Regions from separate parts of the Homo sapiens genome. Here all the other regions are linked to region 3. The links come from fine-mapping of genetic effects on gene expression. A gene starts in region 3. Each other region holds a variant in brackets. All regions are shown on one strand. Distances are from middle to middle.

What was found.
Region 1: its variant is fine-mapped to the expression of SAMD12 in whole blood (TOPMed, PIP 0.95).
Region 2: its variant is fine-mapped to the expression of SAMD12 in esophagus mucosa (GTEx, PIP 0.96).

Annotation. Positions count from the first base shown.
Region 1 is chr8:118,701,261-118,709,447 of GRCh38, forward strand. All of the region lies in intron 3 of SAMD12-AS1 (SAMD12 antisense RNA 1), which reads left to right. Among named protein-coding and RNA genes, the nearest start is that of SAMD12, 83 kb to the left of the region's middle. The variant G/A (reference allele first, on the strand shown) is at 4,055.
Region 2 is chr8:118,581,914-118,590,100 of GRCh38, forward strand. All of the region lies in intron 1 of SAMD12 (sterile alpha motif domain containing 12), which reads right to left. Among named protein-coding and RNA genes, the nearest start is that of SAMD12-AS1, 35 kb to the right of the region's middle. The variant A/G (reference allele first, on the strand shown) is at 3,228.
Region 3 is chr8:118,618,245-118,626,431 of GRCh38, forward strand. It overlaps SAMD12 (sterile alpha motif domain containing 12), which reads right to left and starts at 3,719. Exons shown (of 4, transcript NM_207506.3): 1 at 3,560-3,719. The coding sequence starts at 3,572. SAMD12-AS1 (SAMD12 antisense RNA 1) reads left to right here and starts at 2,757. Exons shown (of 5, transcript NR_038210.1): 1 at 2,757-2,942; 2 at 3,291-3,411. RefSeq lists enhancers at 2,712-2,761, 2,792-3,001, 3,612-3,811 and a silencer at 3,912-4,061.

The DNA.
Region 1 (8,187 bases), 83 kb after region 3:
TAGAAACATACAAGAAAGGAATTTTGAGAAATGTAGATCAGCCAGGACAAGTTACAAAGCCACTATAGTTCGTTTTAAATTTCATCATTTTTCTTGACATATATAATCATTTAATAACTGCCATAATGCAACACATAATTTATAGTCATCAGCATCTCCTCTTTTTCCATTAAATAAGATACTATTAAAGCACTTAGTAGATTTCCATCGCAAAAGTCCATGAGACCAGGCATCTGCCTTCCATTTACAAAGCATTTTTTTCATTGGATGTGTAAATACATTTCTTACATTCTCATTCATCACCTTTTTTTGTTTTTTTTTGAGATGGAGTCTCACTCTGTCACCCCGGCTGGAGGGCAGTGGCACAATCTCAGCTCACGGCAACCCTCTCCTTCAGGGTTCAAGCTGTTGCCCTGCCTCAGCCTCCCAAGTAGCCGGGATTACAAGCATGCACCATTATGCCCAGCTAATTTTTGTACTTTTAGTAGAGACAGGGTTTTGTCATGTTGACCAGGCTGGTCTCGAACTTCTGACTTCAAGTGGTCTGCCTCCCTGGGCCTCCCAAAGTGCTGGGATTACAGGCATGAGCCACCACACCCGGCCCATCCCTTTTTGACTTGGCCTTTGGTTCTCCTTTTGCCTTCTTCTCTGGTTTTCTGGTATAAGACTTGGTGTATTTGGGGTTTTATTTTAAATAATCCAGGTCTATTCATTTTCTCCAAGTACATTTCAAGAGCAAAACTAAAATCTTAGAAAAGGGAAACTAATGTCTGGGTGCGGTGGCTCACACCTGTAATCCCAGCACTTTGGGAGGCCGAGACGGACAGATCTTGAGGTCAGGAGTTCAAGACCAGCCTGGCCAACAAAGTGAAACCCAGTATCTACTAATGATACAAAACATTAGCCAGGCATGGTGGCATGCACCTGTAATCCCAGCTACTCAGGAGGCTGAGGCAAGAGAATCACTTGAACCCCATAGGCAGAGGTTGTAGTGAACCGAGATTGCACCATTGCAATCCAGTGTGGATGACAGAGCGAGACTCCATCTCAAAAAAAAAAAAAAAAAAAAAGGAAAAGGGAAACTAATGTGTAGAGGGTTTAATGAAATATTGGCAGGAAAATAATCTCTTTGTTTTGCTGTTTTAAACAGGAGGCATGTTGAACAATATAGGGAAATACAAATGTTTATTTGTTAGGATCTCTCTGTGATGCCGGCTGAGTCCCAGGAAAACACACTCGGAGATCGACATGGTGGGCTTTTGTTAGGGAGTGCTCTTGGGATCAACCTGTAAAAGGGAGGAAAAGAAGTAGGATTGTGCAGAGAAAGAAGCTGGGCTGAGATGCAGTCCAGTGGAAACCTCAGTCATTCCTATGGGGAGTTCTGAAGATGGCATGACCCTTGGGTCCCTAGTTGGAATGAAAGGGCTGGTCTTTTACAGGCCTGTGTTAATCAGTCATTGGATGTGGGCTGTTCTGGGACTGGGACAAGGTGTGTGACCTTGGATGAGTGGCTTCCTTCAAGATAAGGTAATCTCTGGATGGTGCTGATAGCTGAGAACTAATAACTTCATTTTGATGAGAAATCTTGATGGTGTGTCACTGTGACCCACATATTCTGAAAAAAGGTGCTTATAGAAGGGCAATTTTCTATGAATGCTGTTTTGCTATCCTATTATGGAATATTCTCTATTAACTCAGTATTCAATATCCATACTATTAGTGGTTAAGGGGATAAGATCATAATAAAATGCATCCTTAATACTTTTTTTATGACTCTCACGGTCAATTACACACTTCCTATGTCTTTATATCAGAGTCTTACAGCCATGTCAGTATGCCACCTCAAAAATGTTGAAAAAACCGATGAGTTTTGTAGAGTTTGCTCAGGGGGAATGAGCATTTTCTGCCCTCTCCTAGCCCTCCTTCTCATCCTGTCAGGTTCACCTGAGCTAAGTGGATCTCCGGAGTCTAAAATGGAGAAGATAAAAATAACTCAAATCATCTTCCCTCTGCCCGTCCACCTTGAACCTGTTCTCTTCTCTGCTCTGTGCCCTGCAAAGCTGATCCTTGAGGTCGACATTTTTCACCTCCCTTTCTGGCTGGCTTCTCATTGGGTTAAACCAGTGGGAGGCAAGAAGAAAGAAATTGGCTTGTTGAAGGAGAAAAAGGTCGGAGAGTTTCTTCCCTGCTGTCTCCATGTGTCAATGATGCTTCTTCAGCAGTAGCAGTGTCCTGTGGTAACAACCCCAGCCAGATAGTCCCTCTTCCAGGTTCCCAGCTCTCACTGGGCTCCAGTTACACTAGTTGAACTCTTTCGGTGCTGACCTAGGGTGGGAAGCATTAGCACATGGGCCATTACAGGGCATGCCCAGATGGGCAATTTTATTCTTCCATTAAAAAAAAAGATCAATAGCTTTGTTACTATACATAGTTTCCAGGAGATTTGTCCCTAGAAATTCCATTACATTTGGATGTCACTCAGGATCAAAGCAACACCTGCAAGTTTTTATGTTATACCACACACTCATCTTCCCTTAATTGCTATCTACCGTTTAAGGCTGATAGCAATAAATCCATACGCAGTGTGAAAGGGTAGCTGTGAATCCTGAGGCAACAGTTTATCATCATTAGCAAAGGTGATAAGGCAGGTACCTAGAAAACTTGGAAGGTCTCCTGCAAAATTAGCAAGAATGCCTGCCAAGCTCAGGCACTCTGACTTCTGCACACCTTTCTCTAGGCTGCCTGTGGCCAATTCTTTCCAAGTTTGTGCAGGTCATATCCTCCTTCCCTGCAGGCAGTTTTCTTTACCACTGTTTGTTTCATCGTAACAGCTGTTATTATTTAGTGACAGTGTGAATTATTAGGAAGAACGTATTTTATAAGTGATGTGATTCCCTTCTCTCTTCCCATAACAGAGAAGCCACTACTATGTTTCTAAATTTCTGAGTACTCTTGAACTAGTAGAGCCAGGAGATCTTATGGGTTGGGTCCATCCAGGAGGATTAATTGTGGATTCCTCAGTGGAGAAGGGAAAGGATGGGCAGAGTGCATGGACAGGCAGAGTTAGAGGCAGTGTCAGAGTGACTGCTGAGACAGAGAATAAGGTCAAGTTGGCAGAGACCAAGCCCTGCTTTGCACCAGTGGGGAGAAGGAAGCTGTAAAACTGGTGTGTGGAAATAACTCCTATGAGATGCATCCCTGGGCTTGTCCAGGGCAGCTGTGGTTGGGAAGATGGACTTTAATATTGAGCAAGCCAAAAATATTCAAACAAGGGTCACAATGTGGACTAATATTTTAAATATTCTTTTATAGTTTATTTTATTTCGATAGTTTTGGGGGAACAGGTGGTTTTGGGTTACATGGATAAGTTCTTTAGTGGTGATGTCTGAGATTTTGGTGTACACTGTACCCAATGTGTAATCTTTTATCCCTCATTGCCCTCACCCCTCTCCCACCTTCCCCTCGAGTCCTCAAATTCCTTTATGTCATTCTTATGCCTCTGTATCTTCACAGCTTAGCTCCCACTTATAAGTGAAAACATATGATATTTGGTTTTCCATTCCTGAGTTATTTCAGTTAGAATAATGGTCTCCAACTCCATCCAGGTTGCTGTGAATGACATTTTGTTCATTTTTAAGGCTGAGTGGTATTTTCTTTATCCACTCGTTAGTTGATGGGCATTTAGACTGATTCCACATTTTTGAAATTGTGAATTGTGCTGCTATAAGCATGTGTGTGCAAATGTCTTTTGAATATAGTGACTTCTTTTCCTTTGGGTAGATACCCAGTAGTGGAATTGCTGGATTGAATGGTAGTTCTACTTTCAGTTTTTTAAAGGCATCTCCACACTGCACACTGTTTTCCATAGTAGTTATACTAGTTTACATTCCCATCAGCAGTGTAAAAGTGTTCCCTCTTCTCCACATCCACTTCAACATCGAGTATTTTTTGTTTTTTTAAATTATGTCCATTCTTGCAGGAATAAGGTGGTATTTTAAATTTGCATTTGCCTGATAGTGATGAGCATTTTTTCATATGTTTTTTGGCCATTTGT[G/A]TATCTTCTTTTGATAATTGTCTATTCATGTTCTTTCCCCACTTTTAAATGAGATTATTTGTGGGTTTTTTTTTTTTTTTTTTTTTTTTGCTGATTTGTTTGAGTTCCTTATAGATTTTGGATATTAGTCCTTTGTGGGATGCACAGTTTGTGAAGATTTCCTCCCACTCTGTGGGTTATCTGTTTTCTCAGCTGATTATTTCTTTTGCTGTGCAGAGCTTTTTAATTTAATCAGGTCCCATCTATTTTTGTTTTTGTTGCATTTACTTTTGGGTTTTTGGTCCTGAACTCTCTGTCTAAGCCAATGTCTAGAAGAGTTTTTCTGATGTTATCTTCTAGAGTTTCTATGGTTTCAGGTCTTAGATTTAAGTCTTTGATCCATCTTGAGTTGATTTTTGTGTAAGGTGAGAGATGCGGATCTAGTTTCATTCTCCTACATGTGGCTAGCCAATTATCCCAGCACCGTTTGTTGAATAGGGTGTCCTTTTCCTGCTTTATGTTTTTGTTTTGTTGAAGATCAGTTGGCTGTAAGCATTTGGCTTTATCTCTGGGTTATCTATTCTGTTCCATTGGTCTACGTGCCTATTTTTATACCAGCACCATGCTGTTTTGGTAACTTTAGCTCATGGATGGGTAGAATCAATATTGTGAAAATGACCATACTGCCAAAAGAATCTACAGATTCAATGTAATTTCCATCAAAATACGATCATCATTCTTCACAGAACTAGAAAAAACAATCCTAAAACTTACATGTAACCAAAAAAGAGCCCACATAGCCAAAGCAAGACTAAGCAAAAAGAATATATCTGGGGCATCATATTGCCTAACTTCAAACAATGTAGACTAATTTTAAGCAGCCATTTACTTACTTATTTTAATGTGCATACGGAATATATATACTCTTTACATGTTAAAAATGGTTGAATGGCTATTCCTTTTTTTCTACTAATTAAATGAATTTGAAGAACATATCAAGAAAATAATAATATTGTATAGATAGTACCTAGATGCGTAAATTCCTGAAGTAGAGGAATATCAAGTATTGTAATGGAAAAAGTTAGAGGAGGCCACAACCATCAAGACCTGGCCCCTCTTCCAGTATTTCTGCCACAAATTTTCAGGATGTTTCTATCAGTATAATCCCATGAAGGAAGTGAATGGAGCCAGACATTTACTGAAATTGAATTTCTCTGCAACCAGAAGAATGGAGACTTAGACTAGGTATAATTTGATTTAGAAAAATAAAGGGAGGTGTGCTAAGTATTCTACTTGTTCTCCTATCAATTTGCTCTCTACTCTCTCAGACTTCCTCTGTGCCCTGCAAAATTCCAACAGGCTGCTTTGCCCTCCAGCTTTAATTGGGTTTGCTCAGGGCTGGGATTAGGGTAAAAGGAATGAGGACCCCAGGGTACTGCGAGGGCCTCTTTAAACTGTATGCCTAGTTCTGGTCCTGTATTCACCAATAGGAGACAGGATAGAAAAGAATGATGTTGGTGTATTAATTCCCCAGCTTCCTCTCTGCCGGATTGCTGGGGGTTTGTTGCTTTCTTCCACTGAGGCAATGGTTTCTATCAGCACATTTCTCCATACAGTTCTTCTTCCAGGTCCCCCAACCTTGTCCTTATTATTTCTCTCAGTGTGTGTGTGTGGTGTAGGGAAAGGGATGGCTAGTGAAGGCAGGGGAGGAACCTGGTTGTTACAGCTGGCTCCCTGCTGTTACTAGACCTAGGGTACCATACCATTCCTTGTTATTGCCCTGGGGGACTCCACCATTCCTTGTTCCACACTGGAGTGCAACACTAGTCCTTTTAGGAGACTAAATCCTGCCCACAACTCTATAAATATTCCCTTTATTAAAACCTCCCATTTACTTGCTTGACTTTACTATCTGTTTCTTGCTGGAACGAAAAGGGATATAGCACATAACATGTCTTGATCCCTGGAGCTATGATCTAAAATTCAACTCTTTTACATTTAAGAAATGAAGTAATTTTCTTATTGCCTGTTTTCCTATGAGTTTGCTGGTTCTAGAGTGGACAGGGCCATTATCTGTTGTCACCAGTGTGTCCGTAGGGCCTAAAAGCTTAGTATATGCTTGTTGACTAACTTACTATCGACAAAATCTATGTCACAATTTCCCTATATAAGAACAAAGAACAAGGAATATTGTATACTTGTCTGTTAGAATAAAATCTTGCAACAGAGAAATAGGCTGAGAAAAGAGTGGCGAATTTATTCTCTGTCTCTGCCTCTATAATATATCATTAATTTCCCTAAATTCTTTAATGTTTTCTTAGTAATTTTTGGCTCCAAAATCCCTACTTGGTGGATAAGGTAAAACAAATTTCAGTAAGCAAACTTCACAGGGGGGTGGAAGAGGCATCATAAGTACACCACATGCTCATTCTTCTTAATTGCCAGATCTTCCATCTGTTGGTCTGAGATAATATTGATAAAGGAATTAAAGATGCCACACCATCTCCTGAATCAAATGAGAACAGTCGTTCTTAAGTTACAGAATATGACATTTTAATGCTTTGCAACATGAAGAGGAAAGAGCATTTAGTTTATTTTCATGTGGCTAATTTGAAGCTAGATTAGATCATCTAGTTAACTCATAGGTTCTTAACTTTTAAGGCCAAATATTGTGTAGCATCTCATTTTCACAGTGGCGGTTGTTACTGTTAATAATTGAATCAACTAGGAAGTTAACCTTGAATACCAAACACAAAATCTCTAAACCAAAAGCTAGAAGTAACACAATTTGGGGAATAGAGCCATGCTTAAATAAGAGGCAGCATTGTGTTGCCTCAAAATAGGCATAGCTTTGATGCTTGAATATTTTAATATATTTTTCTATATGGATAATGTTGTTCTCTTAAAATCTTGTTACTTTCTCATATTATGGAGCAGAAAGAATGGTGGAAAATCTCAAAAACAAATAAAGCAACGCTCGTAGTCAGTACTTGAATACTGACTCAAGTACTCTGAATCTCAAGACAGGACCCAGTGACATTTTGGAATTGGATGGATCTAGCTTGTCTAGACCAAGAGGTGGGTCTGGCTTGTCTCTGGTGGTTCTAGCTAAGAAGGGAATTCTTTGAACCACTCAATCAGATTTAGAATTGGTATTAAGCAATAATAAGCTACTGTAGTTTGCCACTATAATTCAGACTATATGACCAGAAATGAAATGGGGCAAATAAATTACATCAGTGGCTTACAATTTTAAGACTTCTGAAGATTTTAGTATTAAAAGCCTGGGGTAGTAAGATGTGAATTACAATTTTCTTTTTATGTAACCATGGAAACACCTGAAAAATACACAGCCTCTGAATGGACATTTGATTTGAAATTTATACAATACCACAATTCTGTTTACCAAACTCAAGTTTCAGTTCAAACTCAGATATTGGCAGATAGCCTTCAGAAGGTCACCAGGCCACTCAGAAGTCTGAGGGTTTCATACTTTGGTTAATTTTCACCCCCTCCATCCCTTGCCCATCAGCACCCTTAATCTTACTTTAGCGTTATCTGTTTTTCTTTGACTAACATTGTAAAGAGTATCATTTAACTGAGTTCAGACTAATTGGGAATGAATATGCAACACATTTTAGTCCAACTTGATTATCCTGTAGGTATCCTAGGAAGATTGTTCTTGAATCTGTGCGTTTCCTGCATGCTAGTTTCATGTATCTTTTAATGACATCTTGATTACTGCCATTATTATTTTATGTTTATAAAATGCCCTGAAATATGTCTTTAGCTCATCTCCAGTTCTTTATAGTTTAAAAAGCCCGACTATCTTCTTTAACAACCTCTTCAGTTTCAAGCCCAATCATTTGAAGAGATCTACCTTTCACAAATTGGAAAAATAAGATTTTGAAGTAGTGTTTACAGCCCATGTAGACTAGAACAAGAATAGTTAAAAAGGTAAGCATGAGAGGCCTTTTCAGCTGAGTAGCACCAGTTTGAAAGTGAACATCAGTATTTCTACTTAAAGTATGTTAGGTTGTGTAGGTTATATGGCTTTGGGAACAGGGGAAAGGTTTTGAAAAGATAAATCAGAGGAGATTATACGGGAAGACTTTTATTCTGCAGAAAAAAAAGTATCTGAGTATTATATTTTT
Region 2 (8,187 bases), 36 kb before region 3:
TCTTCCCCAGGTCTCCACTTCATCAATAATCTTTTACCCAACATCTTTAGGCTTTCCCCTTTCTCAGCATTCTTCCCCTCCAGCCAGCTTCCGTGACTCAAAAAGTCCAACTCTCTATTCGGCACTCCATTTAGGCCATAGTTTCCTCTTTGCCTCATCTTTGCCAGGATTCTGATGAGTACTTTAGACCTGAGGGATGAGGCAGGCTTCCCAAAAGAAGTGAGGTGTTTTCCTCCCACTATCCACTCCCTCCTTAATAGATATCATCTATTCCTATGTTCCCAATCAACATTCTGGTGACTCCCAAATATTAACTGCAGCCTAGACACACCTTTCTTATGAATGTCAGACAAGTAAAACTGCAGCAGAAACAATTTGCCTGTTTCAGTCTTCGCAAGTTACACAGAAACTGATGAGACATCCTTAACATCACTCTATGATCCATCACTTTCCTTTCATCTATCAGCAAATCCAACAGCTCTACACCTAACATACTGCTCAAATATTCAATGATATTTCTTTAAAAAAACAAACTGATTGCACAAAGGTCCAAATGCACGTGATCTTATTTCTACCACTTTATGTGGACATTATTTATGAATTTCTCTTCTCCTAGTCTCTAAGCTTCCTATTTAGTGGTACACTCTGGGCACTTAACATGTATTAGTTCATACCTCCCTTTTGGGCTTTGTTCTGAATCTCAAATGATCTTCATGAAAAACTCTGAGACATAACTATGTTCATTTCACAGATAAGGAAAATGAGGCTCAAATGGGTTAGGTTCACAAAAGGGCATACTATACTGGTGTGTACAGAAAAGTCACAAAAATCATGGCCCATTTAGTATACACGATTTCATATTACACATGGAAAAATCCAAACTAGATTAAATGGTATGGAAAATTATTAGCTGACAGAACAAGAAGTCCAGTGATGGCACAAGTTCAGAATTAGCTGATTTGCATCTCGGTAGTTTCATCAAGCACTGTGCTTTTTTTTTTTTCTTTCTCCATTCTATTATCCATAGCACCGACTTTATCCTGAACCTGGGTCCCTTTGTAGCATCTAGACTACAAGCTTTAGTTTTCATCTTGAAGCAGAAAGGGCTTGGTTGACTATGGCTTTTTCTCCCAAACCTCCTTCAAATTTTATTCTCTTTTCTCATTGGCCAGGAGTGAATTACATGCCTATTACTGAACTAACATGCTGGCAGTGGAAATAGGATTACCCTTAAACCAACTGACCAGCTCAGGTCAATTCCCCAAACCACACTGCTGCTACTCAACAGGGCTGTAGCAGAATGGATGCTGGGGAACCAACAACAATGCCCACTTTAGGCAGTGCTGGAAAGAGAACTTAGTAGCCAAAGCCTCTGAGAGCTTGAAGCTAATTACTGTTATTATCAATCAGCTTCTCCATCTCCAAAGACTGGCCTACTTACAATGAATATTCAATTAAATACATCAAAGTTGTGATTATTTTTAAAAGGTGTGCTTGTGTAGGGAGATGGGGGATTGGCATGGGATGGATTCAGACATTAATGAAGAAAAGAAAAATGTGTAGCTTTGATCTTTCTGTCTAGCTTTATCCTCTGCTGCTTCCTACCTTGAAATTCATGACCTAGGAATACCACTGAACTGCTGGTAGACCTCCTATTCTCTTCCCCTATCACCTCCCCACCAAATTTGACTCTTATACTTCCTTCACCTCTGATCACGGTGGTCCCACCACCTAGAAATGCTGGTCCTACTCCAACCTAATCCTATCTCCTGCTCTTTGGGAGGCTAAGTCCTATTCACCTCATGTCAGCTCAGACCTCTTCTTCAGAAAGCCTTTTAGGAGTCTCTGGCTACCACAGCAAGAAACCATTCCCTATGCTCCCTCATGCACAGTCCCCTGGTGCTTCATTTTCCTCACAGTACTAAGAATGTCCATGTAATTGATCTGTCTGCCTTGCCCAGCACAACTGTAAGCTCCTGGAAGGCAGGTACCATCTGTTTTTCATCTCCATGACTTCCATTCCTGAGTCCAGGACCTGGCACATAAGAGACATTAAGGAAACACTTGTTCAGCTGCAGAATGAACCAGCAATTCCCTTCCTTTACGCAATCATGCCTTAAATCAGAAGAAAGCTTTTCTCTGCTAGTAAATACTTGGCATTCAAAATGTAAGGTATCTATAAACAGGAGGCAGAATACAGTTTTTTGACTTTCCACACACGTAGGCTTATTTTTCACACAAATATTTTAATCCTCCATAGCTGTTCCTTCCTCCACTGCAAACTCCCCAGTAGTTGATTTAGGTTTTTGTACTTAGAATTATTTATTTAAAACCATTTTTGATAGACTTTGCTTTGTTTTCCCTGAAATTTCATGTCCCTAATATTTACAAATCAAACAACTCTCCAATGGCCTCTTACAATGCATGACCTCCATCTCTTTGCTTGTGTCAAAGGTGTCCCCTTTTGATTTCTCTTTTTTGTGTTCATCACTGCCCTTTCTTGTTTTCCCTAAAGTTATTTACTTAATTTAATGGGCTTGGCAGCTCACTGGTCGGCTTCGAGACCCTCTTCTCGTTTCCCTAATCTTCACCACCACTCCTGTGCCTGACGGATTCCTAGTCATTGAACTGACACCGCAGGCAGCTTGTGGTCTTTATGGGAAGTGCTGCTGCTGTCACTTTTACTTAATTTGAATGTCATTAATATTGAATTCTTCAAAATGAAGAGTTAAAAACCAAAATGAATTTCACAAACATTGCTCTTAAAAAAATTTAAGAGAGAAATGTTTCACTGCAAATGCACATATTTTAGCATTGTTTTGAAATGCCCTTTTGAAGGCACCATGTTTTTTTCATGTGTAAAAACCTACTTCCCCAGAAAATTGAAAACCAGGTGCATTGCTGGTGGGAATGTCAAGTGATACACCCCCTGTGGGAAACAGTATGGTGGTTCCTCAAAAAATTAAACACAGAATTGTCATTTAATCCAACAATTCAACTTGTAGGTATACACACACACACACACACACACACACACACACAAACACACACACACAAACTGAAAGCAGGAACTCAAGATATTTGTATGCTCATGTACATAGCAGCATTATTCATAACAGTCAAACAGGCATAAACCAAATGCCTGTGGATGCATGAATGGATAAACACAATGTGATACATATAATGAAATATTTTGCGCCTATAAAAGGAATGGCATTCTCATCCAT[A/G]CTACAACATGCATGAACCTTGAAGACATTATGCTAAAGTGAAATATGCCAGACAAAAATGGACAACTATTGGACGATTCACTTATATGAGTTAATCAAATCTACAGAGAAAGAAAATAGAACAATGGCTACACATGGGCTGTGGGAGAGAAAATGGGAAGTTATTGGTAAGTTATGGGTATAGTGTTTCACTTTGGGATGATGAAAACTCTCTGGAGATGGATGGTGATGATGGTTATACAATAATGTGAATGTGCCTAATGCCACTGAACCATATAATTAAAAATGATTAAAATGATGAATTTAATGTATATTTTGTCACAATAAAAAAATAAAAACTTAAAAACCCCACTCCCTCTCATTTTAACTTCCCTAATACCTCCATAAATGGAAAGAGAGGTTCCAAAGATATTTTTATTCAAAGGTTTGAGAGTTTATTTATGAATAATATCATCGTGATTTTCATCTAGAATGTTATTTTATTTTTTAATAAAATGGTAAAAATTATAGCTCAAAAGTATGAGGTTACTTCAGAATTTTCCTGGAAAGGAAATGTTCTCCAAAACAGGTCTTGTCCTAATCAGCAGAAGCAGGGCTTGGATTGCTGATTGCTGGAAATGAGCCTGGGCTCTCCAAGGCTTAGTGGCTGAGGGATGCCATTCTCATGTGATTTAGGTGACAGTAACAGGCTACCTGGAATGAAGTGCCAGGCCTTGTTTTCTCTGCTCACAGTGATGCTAGAAGAGTTGAGGGGTGCATTGGCATCTGCTGTCATTCCCAAGAACAAGTGCATCTTAGTCTCCAGGAAGCCACCCAACTTCCAGTTCTTCCAATCTCCACCCACACCACTCTCTGTCATGAAACAAGGGATGGAGACTTATTAAATTTTAATGTTCCTCTATTCTGAGTTTTGCCTTGAATAGAGACACTGTGAAAACACTCCCAGTTGCCCCTCAGAATGAGCTGGCTCCCCAACCAAGGAACCCCCACATAGAAACTGCAAGCAGTGCCCTGAAATGTGTTGTGCTTCTCTACCTTGACAGAACTGACCTTTTACATCATATGCTCTTCCTTTCCCTTATTTGCATAGATAACTGCTTCAGGAAATATTAATTTTTCTCTTTTTTCTACTGTAAAGCTTTAACTAGTCTTGCACCCAGTATATCCTCTTAAGCAATAAAAACACTTCTCCTCTTTTTCTTTCTTTTTTTTTTTTTTTTGAGACAGTGTTTTGCTCTGTTGCCCAGGCCGGAGTGCAGTGGTGTGATCATGGCTCACTGCAGTCTCAACCTCGCAGGCTCAAGTGTTCCTTCCACCTCAGCCACCCAAGTAGCTGTGACTACAGGTGTGCACCACCACACCCAGCTAATTTTTGTATTATTTGTAGAGGCAGGGTTCTGCCATGTTGCCCAGGCTGGTCTTAGACTCCTGGGCTCAAGCGACCTGCCCACCTCGACCTCCCAAATTCCTGGGAACACAAGCATCAGCTACATTGCCCAGCCACCTCTTTTTCTTATATGATCTGTATGTGTGTGTATGTACCATGTGTTGCAAATATTTATTGACAGGTCTGCTAAATCTATGACTAGGAGCCCCCAGAAGAAGTGACTACTTCTTGCTGAGCTTTACAAATGTAGTGTGTAGCCACATAACTACCTTACAGTAGGTGCTCAATCATTGTTTATAGACTGAGCATAGATATGATGGAAAGATACTGATTGAATCCTACTCACTGCCATTCGGTACTGATGCGTAACATATATTTTTCAAAAAAGCAAATAAAAGTTGCTTCCAATCTAATTGTGTAATTCACCAAAAATGTTAAATCACAAAACCATAAAGCTATCCTGAAACTACTGATTTATTTGACTGCCATCTGCAAAGCAGAGACTATCTTATTCATCTTTGCACCTGCAAAGCCTAAACAGTTGTACATACTCAACCCTCAATAAATGTTGCTAAATGAATCAGTGACCTTAAAAACAAATATACTCCAATCCCCACCATTAGTTATTAGAATTGAGATAGGTTATTTCAAATTTCATGTTTATGTCTTGCTTCTAGCTAAAGTTCCTGAAGGAGATGGTCCTTCTTTAACACTTCCCTAATATAATATACACATAACACTCTCCAATATGTTTAATTCATTATATTAATTATTATAGGTGCTTCATTTATTGTATTCTGGATTCGAATTCAGCAGAGACTACCCTCAAGAAGTAATGTGAACATCACAAAAAGTCTGTAACTCTTTGTAGCAGACACTTCTGATGGGCTACACATTCTCAACACTCTCATTTTTGCCACCTACTGAAGTATGGCTACAACGCCAATAGCAAATTTCACAGCTTCCCTTGCAGCTACAAGTGAGGTTGATGACAGATTCCTCCCTAGGGCACATAAGCAGAAGTTTGATGGGAAACAAACAGTTCTGGAACTGACAAAAGAGGAAAGATCTTAACATCACTCTTCCCCTTTGTCTCTGCCTTAAAGGCATATGTGATATCTAGAACTGCTACAGTACATGCTGTGACCACAGGGCTACAAAGATGAAAAAAAGTCAAGAGAATAATAGTCACATTGGCTCTGACATCATTGGGCTACTCGAACTTTGTTCTTCATTATTCTCCTCTGGACTTGAGAGTCTGTGAGAAAAGTAATTCTCTGCTTATTAAGCCATGGTTAGTCGTGTCTTCTACAACTTTCAGATGAACCCCTGCAAAATGACACATTTCCATTTTAACCAATAACATAGGATTGTTTAGCCCTTCTTTTTAAAAGAGAAAACAGAAATCCTAGTAAAATGTTCTGGTCTGGGTTTCACAGCTCCTATTATGACTTAGAAAGCTGAATAAGTATAGTATGAATAACAGATATACCTTAGGAATATACCTTAGGAATACATGTTATTATCAGTAAACTCTGACATCAGAGGTAATCAATCCAGATGACACTCTGAAGACCTGAGGATGAAACTTTCTTGCTTAGCTGGGGTCCTAAGGTACCCAGAAAAGTGCCCAGATCATTCATGAAAACTTTTGCATCAATGAATGGGGATGGGAATGTGTTCCTGTGTGTCTGGTCATTAATGTGTTGACATAAAAATACAACAACTGTACCAGAAAGTATGTCTCAGGAACACAGGCTTGGTTTAGCTAATAGAAAGGGAGCACAACATCTCCTTGGGCAAAGGAAACTGCCCAGCAGATATCTTCTAGGACAGGGGTCAGCAAACTATGGCCCATTGACCAAATCCATCCTGCTGTTTGTTTTCATGTGGTTTGTGACCCCAAAATAGTTTTTACATTTTAAAGTGATTGGAAAAAAACATTTTATGACACATGGGAATTACATGAAATTCAAAGTTCAATGTCCATAAAGTGTTACTGGAAAATAATAAATGAGGCATGCTCATTTATCTATATAGTGTTCATGTCTGCTTTTGTGCTACAATGGCAGCAGTGAGTAACTGTGACACAGACCACGTGGCCTGCAAAGACTGAAATATTTACTGGCTGGCTCTTTGCAGAAAAAGTTTGCTGGCCCTTGCTCTAGGGTAGAGTATAACCATAACCTGAAGGGCACTGGGACCTGATAACCCCAGCCTCCTTTACTCTAGCAACATCAAGGAAGAACTTATGGGTCTTTGCAGGACTAGCCTCTGACTTATTCTGTACTTCCCCACTCCCAGCTAATTTAAATGAGCTAAATTATGCTGAATTTTATCACTTGGGTCAGGCAATGAGGAGACAGAATATGATTTCCAAATTTCTCCTTGGTCAGCTAAATGTGATATTACATATACTTGCTGAAGCTTAAAATTTCTATAGAGGTCTTTTTCCCACTATCAAAAACAGGGGTAAAATATAAATGTCCAGAAGGGTAATTCAGCAGCATTAAAAGCTGAACATGTCCACCCCCAGCAAGTCTAAGTGGCCAATAATAGATGGCTCCCCTATTCCATGCAAGAAGAGACTGGAAAAAAAGAAGTTATTACATCAATGAGAAAGACAGGGGAAGAAACTAAATGGAAACTGAAAGACTGAACCCACAAAACTCGTGCTATTGTCCTCACAAATCTGCCCACAGTAGCCTGACAATGATGATGTGGCTGCCCAAGCTGGACCTACATGACTGTTCAGCACAGCCAGACGTTCAAACCACATGCAGCAGTGTAAGGACATGGTCTTCTCTGGGCCCCACGATGCTCACTCACTCTGGTTTACTTGTCTACAGAAACAATTTCATCTTTGTAAAAACAGTTCGCTATAATGGAATCTAGTTTTCCAAAGACTACTTAAGTTTAATCACCACATCAAATATTCACTTGTCCTACACTTGATACATAGACAACCTAAAACAATGGAAATTAAAATAATGCTTAACTTAGGTATTGCAGAATCAGTAAAGTGGGGACAGACTTTAGAAGATGTCCAAGGCATGAATATTAACTCTTCTCATTCATGAGGAGAATACAAGGGCAGACACATGCAGAAGTTCTATGATGCTTTAGACAAGGGATTCAGGTATCACTTTGAGAGATTGATAAGTGGTCTACACTGGTGACTTTAAAAATATTTTTAACTATGATACTACAGAAAGAGATTTCACATTGTGAATCCATGACCAATCATCTTTATGTATATGAATTGAACCACGTTTTTATGAAATATTACTTTCCTTTACTACATATCATCTACTCTTTATTTTTTTAAATAAAGTAGTTCCTCTTGCATCCTTCAGGGAAGAAGAAATAGACATACTTTTCTCCATTCATCCCACTTAGTAAAGTTAAAAATGATGGACATTATATATGAGACAAACATAAGACAACTGAATGGTAAAGAGAAGGAAGACAATCTAAAGACCTTGAAGGACCTTGAATAATCTGGTGGTGAGTTCTCTCAGCTTCCTTTTGCCTCGTATATCCCAGACTTAGAACTAAGAAACCTGCAACTTG
Region 3 (8,187 bases):
AAGGGCACCTCTTTTTCATCTTAAACACACGGCTGCAGGTTCAGCAAAGTGAATGAGTGAACTACTTGCTAGTAACACTTTTACAAATTCAAGTTTACTTAAGAAAAAGTTACACATAGTAAAAAACCTTCTAATTTGTTACTAATTAGAAAAACTGGCTGGCATGAATAAGTGAAAATTCAGGATATAAAACACATGCCAAATAGTATAGCTTTTCCTAAGAGAAGGGATGAGAGTACAAGTGATATTTACTTAGGATGCAGGTTCCAGACACCCTTCTAGAAGCCCTCTCCTTTATTTAATCCTCACAATGAGCAGGGCACGGTGGCTCACTCCTGTAATCCCAGCACTTTGGGAGGCCGAGGCGGGCGGATCACGAGGTTAGGAGATGGAGACCATCCTGGCTAACATGGTGAAACTCTGTCTCTACTAAAAGTACAAAAAAATCAGCCGGGCGTGGTAGCAGGCACCTGTAGCCCAGCTACTCGGGAGGCTGAGGCAGGAAAATGGCGTGAACCCGGGAGGCGGAGCTTGCAGTGAGCCGAGATCGCGCCACTGCATTCCAGCCTGGGCGACAGAGCAAGACTCCGTCTCAAAAAAAAAAAAAAAAATCCTCACAATGTTCCCAGGAGGAAAGCAGTAGTGAGCCCATTTTTTCCAGATGTGGAGACTAAAGCTTAGAATGTTAAGCAATTCGAACTGTATTTTCTATTCCAGTTCCTCTGGCAAAACTCCTTATTCTCTGAAGCAGCATTTCTCAATAAGTTGGGTAAACTGATCATTACTTGGCCATGGCTTGGCCTCGTTATACGGGATGGCCATGCGCTGCAGGACATTTATTATCTGTGGCCATGGGCACAAAATACCAACAGCAGCCCCCAGCAGCAGTTCCTACATATCCCAAATGTGTCCAGGGACAATGTCACCCAGCAGTAGAGGTAAACTGTTCTAAAAGATTTTTTGGGCATCAAGACAAAAGACTGAAGAGAAGGGCACTTCGAGGTGGGCAGATCACGAGGTCAGGAGATCGAGACCATCCTGGCTAACATGGTGAAACTCCGTCTCTACTAAAAATACCAAAAAAATTAGCCAGGCATGGTGGCGGGTGCCTATAGTCCCAGCTACTTGGGAGGCTGAGGCAGGAGAATGGCGTGAACCTGGGAGGCGGAGCTTGCAGTGAGCTGAGACCGCGCCACTGTACTCTAGCCTGGGCGACAGAGCAAGACTCTGTCTCAAAAAAAAAAAAAAAAAAATCTCCCATCCTCAAATCTGTCAGAAATCCCTTATTGTATCACATTTAGGCTTCCAAGAAAGCCCCATGTACCCTTATAGAACCAGTTACAAAACCTCCATGAATATATTTGCCATGCAATTCATGAGCATTGAGTACCTATTATGGGCAAAGTACTGTGCTATGAGCTAGGAATATAAAGTCCAAGTCTAACCCCCAAGGGGGTTAGAGTCTAGTAAGAGGCAGATTAAGTATGATAAGTATTAAGATAAATGTGAGCAGGAGGCACTTCCCATAGACTGGAAAGAGTGCTGAGAAGGCAGAAGAAAAAGGAGGGCTGGGACAGTTTCCCAGAGGAAGTGACATTTTCCCAAAGGCTTGAAAGACCAAGTAGGAGTAACCAGGAAGGGACTGGTCCAGGCTGATATCTTTGCAAAGACCAAAGATAGGAATCATATTTGAAGTTAAAGTTTAAAATACTTCCTTCATTCTTTGAGACCTCATTGTGATTCAAACTCAGGATCTCCTGTTTACTAGACAGGTACTTTAACCAAGTCACTAGAAAATAAACTCTCCATAGTCCACATGTACTTCCTTCCTAAGTTCTTGTTTTTGTAAAGTCTGGCTTCACTGGTGTAATCACCCATCACGCAAGAAATAAGACAAATTTATACTTCTTACAGGGAACAAGAAATTGTTTTCGAGAACAGTGTGGACTAGCAACAAAGAGGAGTGTCCCTGTCTTGGGGACACAGGAGTGGTGAAGACGAGAGATCATAATCAGTGTCACCTGATGGGTGACATAGAACGGACACTTAAGGAGTAGGTCAACATATCCTTGGTCTCAAGCTCAAGATGAACTTTATCTCGGCTTTTGTTTTGTTCTTTGGCATCTGAAGTCTTGACTATCAAGCATAACGATGCAAAAAAAAAAAAAAAAAAAAAAAAAAGATTCTCACCCTACTGGTACATTTGCACAGAAAAGAAAACCTAGAAAAATCTTGATTGTAAGAGAGAGAGAGGATTTCATTTTTGTTAATAAAGTTAGGAAAGCTGGAAGTGGCTGGCTGTGGATCTCTGAACCTGAGATAGCCCAAAGGCAAGAGTTTCCCGAGTTTATGGGTGCTGAGTATAGGAGCTGGGTTGTTGCTACTTCAGGTTGTTAAGACAGTCGTTATAAGGGGAGCAAGAGTCAGATTAGTTCAATTTCTTTCTCCTGGGGCAGGGAGGAGAGGGAGCAGCAAGCCAGCCTCGTGGCCTTCTCGTCTCTAGCCTACAAGGAATAGGCTGATTTCCCCTTGGCAAGGCGCCTGAAGCAGCTGGCAGGCAAGCCCTCCTCTTCCTACTTCAGTACGCCCTCTGACCTGACTGCACTCAGAAACCAAAATTCTGCAGGTGAATGTAGGCTCCCATTTCGTCCCACAATCATTTCATCATTCAGGCACAGCTTGACCTCTAATGTGACATCACAAACCCTTCCGGTCCACAGTTTTTTTTTCTTCTTCAGAAACTACCTAAACAAGGAAGTTTGTGTTCCAAGGTAAGATAACCTGAAATGAAAAACTCAGGATCCCTCACGAACAGCCTGACCCTGCTTTCAACCAGGAAGTTCAAGGGAGGCAGGACTTTACGGTCAAAACTGCAAAGCCGAAGCTCAAGACTGTAAGAAGAAAGTGATCTTCAAAGAAAAGGATTCACCCAAATCGAAGAGGTTGTTGCACTTCTTTTCCCTGGCTGATTACATTTCATGTCTGTAAACTTTGCTAAGCCCGGGGCGCTGGCTGTATAAGCAGAGACAGGTGTAGGGACACCTCTACCCTCTGGGTACATCTGCGGCCGCCGCTGCTGGGTGCATAGGACGAAGGGCCCTCGACCCAATCCCAGTCCAAGCTTCCGGATGACGCACCTGGGCTGGGGACCTCTCCCACGTGAGGGGGGCCAACCAAGCATCCCCAGCCCCGGGGCCACCCAGCCTGCTCCGGAGGGAGGGGGCAGGGAAAAAGGGCATCTCGGGGCCAAAACCTCATGCCGGATCCTCCGGCTTTCCCCCCATTTCCAGGATATCGTTTCGCATCAGGGACACTCGTCTCCACACCTCCTACCTCAAAGTCCTACGCACCTACCCTTCACGTCTCTCCAAAGCAACTGAATTAAAGCGCCTACTGGCCTTGGCGGCGCAGGTGAGTGCCAAGAGGTGGAGGAGGAAGGGGCCCGCTCTCCGCCACCCCCTTTCCTCGCCTCCCCACGATCGCCAAGCTTCATCGGGGATGTGTGCCTTGGGGTGCGCGGGTTAAGAGGGAGCTTAAAAATGCCCCAAGCGTCCCTTACCTTCCACAGCCATTCTCTCAGAGCTTCCCTAACGCATGCATAATTTTCTTGGCCGAGGTACTCCTCCTGCCCCGCGCTCCCCCCTTCCTCTCGCTTTCGCCTAAATATTCTGCGCTTATCTGCTCCAGGACCAACCTGCCGCGGTCACGCAAAGCGAGGCAGCCGGCTCCCGGCTCGGCGCGCGCAGGGCGTCCTGGGAAGTGTAGTTCCCTCCCTTCGCTCGGACTGGGGAGAGCACCCCGACTCCTCCGCGGAGTGCCGCCTGGCCCCGACACTTGGAGAGCAACTCCAGCTTCAGCTGGCCAGGCCGAGCAATCTCTCCTGGGGAAGTTGTGAGGGGACCAGGGATGCCTGGTTGTGGCGGGGCGGGGGGGGAGGGGGGGGGGGTTCCCGGGAAGCGGTCTGGACTACATCTCCCAGGAGGCCGTGCGCTGAGATAGGTTCGCTGCTAAGAGTAGGGACCCGTGATTGAGCCCTTCCCTGTCCATTACAAGGGGTTTGGCACCTAGCAGGTGTGGTGAGGTGGGCAGGTGACGGTCAGCTGTGTGATGAGCTCCTGCGAGCTCGTCCGTGGGCCTCTGCCGCCGGTACCGCCCCGCCCCCTGGCCTCCTGAACCACCATTTAGTAGGGAGAGCAGGACCACTGTCCTCCTGTGTGGTTCTCCACCTGGGCCAGAGAACGCTGCCCAGGGTGAGGTTGAAACTTGTTCCTTCGCACCCTGAGATGTATGGGTTTTGTGGGGGAATTCCGACGGTTGATACAGTTGTCTTATCCTACAGGGTGGTTCAGGTGGCTAAATACTTGGCATGGGGGTGTAGGGGAGGAGGAGTGGCTTAAACCCCAATAGGCAACGTCCCCAAGGGGTTGTTAGGAACAAAGTCTGGGAGCCAGGATTGCACCGGAGGAGGTCAGATGAAAGCCTGTCTGGCTTCCAGGATAGGAGGCTTTCAATTTGCCTAGACTTGGAGCCTGTTGACAGCCTGTGATAGGGCCTAATAATTAACAGTGCCTGAGAATCAGGTTCCTTCAACTTCTGAACCTATGTCCTAGCTGTAGGTGCTGGGGATGCTATAAGCAGACATGATAATGGGAATCACGTGGATAGCAATACAATTCGACAGCTCGTAAAAATTAAGTTTCTAAACATTTTTTCCTGCGTGTGAAAATACGGATACAGTTGTGGCTGGAAGGGGTAAGGGAATAGCCTCGGGAATAAATCTGGCTCAAGACTGGATTGACTTTTAAAGGCCTTCAGTTTACAAATGTATTTGGTACCACATCCACCCAGTCACTCATATATAATGTTAATCTCTGTAAAATGAGGAAGTACAAAAATCGGATTCTTCCCATGATGACTACTTAGACATTTTTGTGTGTCTTGGTCATCAGCAAAAAAAAAAAAATGTTTTTCAAAACAATTTCGTTTCTCAGTGTATACATGCACACCTGTTGTTCTGGTCACTAATTACATGCTTAGTTCCCCTACTGGGTAATATATAATAATAATATGTGTATAGGTACTTTAAAAAATACCTGCGTGTAACCATTAAATGCTCTTGTTGATACTTTAATTCTGAGTCCATGGAGCTGTGTACAAGTCAAACCTAAGCCTCTCTTTTAGGTACAGTAGAGAGAGACCCATTCAGTGAGACATAATTTCCATGGGAAAAAGAATTTTCCGACCTAATACACAGCCAAGCATTCTAAACTCTGGAAAGAACTGAAATCCAGGTGCTTCACTACTTTATGTATATAAAATCACCAAAGTGTTAAGTATTTTCTGAGATTGAATGAATGTGAAAGAAAGCCATAGGACAGGTAGTATCAATGGTTCTCAACCTTGGCTGTGCATCAGCCTTCTACAAATATATATTCCTAAGCTTTTATCTTAGTCTCACAGAATCAGAGCTTATGGGGGTTTGGGTAGAGGCACTCAGGTTTTAAAAACCCACAGGTGATTCCAGTCTTCATTGAGGGTGAAAACCATTGGTCTGGTTCCAAGCTTTTAAATATCTGGGTGATATAAAAATATAAAAGTCATTGAAATCTGTGGTTAATTTTAAAACTTCATCTTAGCTCATCTTTAATATTTTTCCCAGTGATGTGCATTCTAGACGAGTTTTATTTTTAGTATAAATAAAATGTGAAGGAGATGTTAGTTTCTACCATATGAAATAGCCAATGTTTGACCATTTTTAAAACCTACAAATAGAACAATTTCATGTGGTTCTGCCTAATAAGGGATAAACAATAGTTGCGCAGAGGTTTTCAATTCTGGCTGAACATTAGAATCACCTGGGAAGTACTAAAAAAAAATTACATTTATCTCTAGAATGTTTGAAAGATAAAGACACAAAATACCAACCGTTGGCAAGATTGTGAAGCAATAAAGATTTATATATTGCTGGTGGTGTGCAAATTCACAAAACCACTTTGGAAAACCATCTGAAATATTCAGCTGAATATATGCTTATCCTGTGACCCAGAAGTTCTACTCCTAGGTTTACACCAAACAAATATGCATACAGATGTTCTCCAAAAGACATGTGCAAGAATGTTTGTGGCTGCATTATTTTAATGTTCCCAAATGGAAAACAACTCAAATATTTATCAACACAGATTGGAGAGATGAACTGTGGTATAACCAAATAATTCCATATAGCAGGGGTCAACAAACTAAGACCAATGAGCCAAATATGGCTCACCATTTATTTCTTATAACTCACCAGCTAGGTGTGATTTTTACATTTTTAAATGGTTGGAAAAAAAACAAAAAAAGTATAATTTGCAAAGCCTGGAAATTATAAAGACATACTTACATAATATCCTCAATTTTGCCTCTTGTCCTACAAAGCCTCAAATATTTCCTACCTGATCCTTTGCAGAAAAAAAGCTTTCCAAACCCTCCTATAAAGTAATGCAAATGAAGGAATTACAATTGTATACAACAACATGATGAGCCACATGTATTAATCGATTGCTGTTAACAAATTATCCCAATATTTAGTGGTTTACAACAATACCCATGTATTACTTCAGTTTCTGTGGCTCAGTAATTTGGGCACAGCTTAGCTTCTGCTTTAGTATCTTTCACAGACTGCAATCATGACTTATTTTTGGTCTTTTTTATCAGCAGCCAAGTACAGTTCCTAACAGATATACCCAATTTTAGCAAGGGGCAAAGTCCAGACCTCATCCCATACCTCTCATAAGCCAAATTCTGTGTTCATTATGATGCTATTGTTTGTTCCTTATAGTATATAAGCACTTCGAGTGCTGGAACTGAGTCTTATGCTTCATATCTTCCAGATTCTTGGTCATAATTGTGGTTACATAGTAAGTACTCAATAGATAATTTATTACTACTATTTTTTTATCCTTGTTATAAGTAGCATTTGTTGGGAAATTACAAGTGCCAAGCTCTGTCTAAGCATCTTGACATACATCATCTCCTTTAATCACTACAATATTGTCAGATATCACTATTTTCCAGATGAGGAAATTGAAGCTCAGTGAATTTAAGTAATTTGCCCCATGTCTCCAAAACATGAATTGTAGCAAGGGGATTGAGGTCTACCTAAGTGTAGAACTCTGTGATGTTACTCCATCTAGATTTCAATACTGATTACGTGATCACAAATCTGAATTCATAAGCACTTGGCCAAATAGGAATTGTCATTACTAATAAAATGAAGGGTTTAAAATATTTTAATATCAGAAATTGTGATATTTAGAATGATTCAAAAATTTCTGAATATATCAGAGAGCACAGAAAGGGAAGGAAAAGCCCATTACCTTATAGTGAATTAAATAAAAAAAGAAATATTGAGATGAGGCTACAGATTTCACTGGATTCTAAGATTTAAAATAGTACATATAAGTACTTTACTGTATTTATTGTTCTAACTCGGTTGCTATATTCACAAGCCTCTACAGAAAACATTCATAAATCTCAAAAAGTAAATAGATTATGTTTCTATTCTGTTCAGGGAGATCTTCTAAACCTAACCAAAAGGATTCAAACCCTAAAAAGTAAAATTTTTGACAGGAGGAACTGAGAGGAAAAAAATAATTTTTTTGTAATTAAGATAAAAAATACTAACTCTAATCCTTGAGTCATGAATAAAGTGCCAACCATTCAAGTTATATCAGGCTTCCATTGGAGGAAGTAAGCATATTTCAGGGAACATGATTTAAGCAAAAGCCTAGTTGTTTTTGCTTAAATCACATTGTGCATAATTAAATCGCATTGTGTGTTATCTGTTTGTTGATAAGTTGGTGATATTCTATACCATCGTTCGTCTAAACTATACTTTCAAAATCAGACTTAAATTATGTCTTCAAAATTTGAGCAGAATCTGTCTACCTTTATATTAACTGGTTATCTGAATATTTGGCTTCAGTACTCAAGTTTCGTAGACATACAGAACTAGATTGTAATCCTGACTCTCATTTACTCGATGTTGGTTATTAGCAAAGTTCTTTGACATTTCTGTGCCTTGGTTTTCCCACATGTATTGTAATGCTATTAATTGTGTAATGTATACATTACCTAGCTCACAGTTTGGGGCTCAGCAGTGACTGAGAGAGTATCTATAGTGTTGTGCGCTGTCCTGGCACATAATGG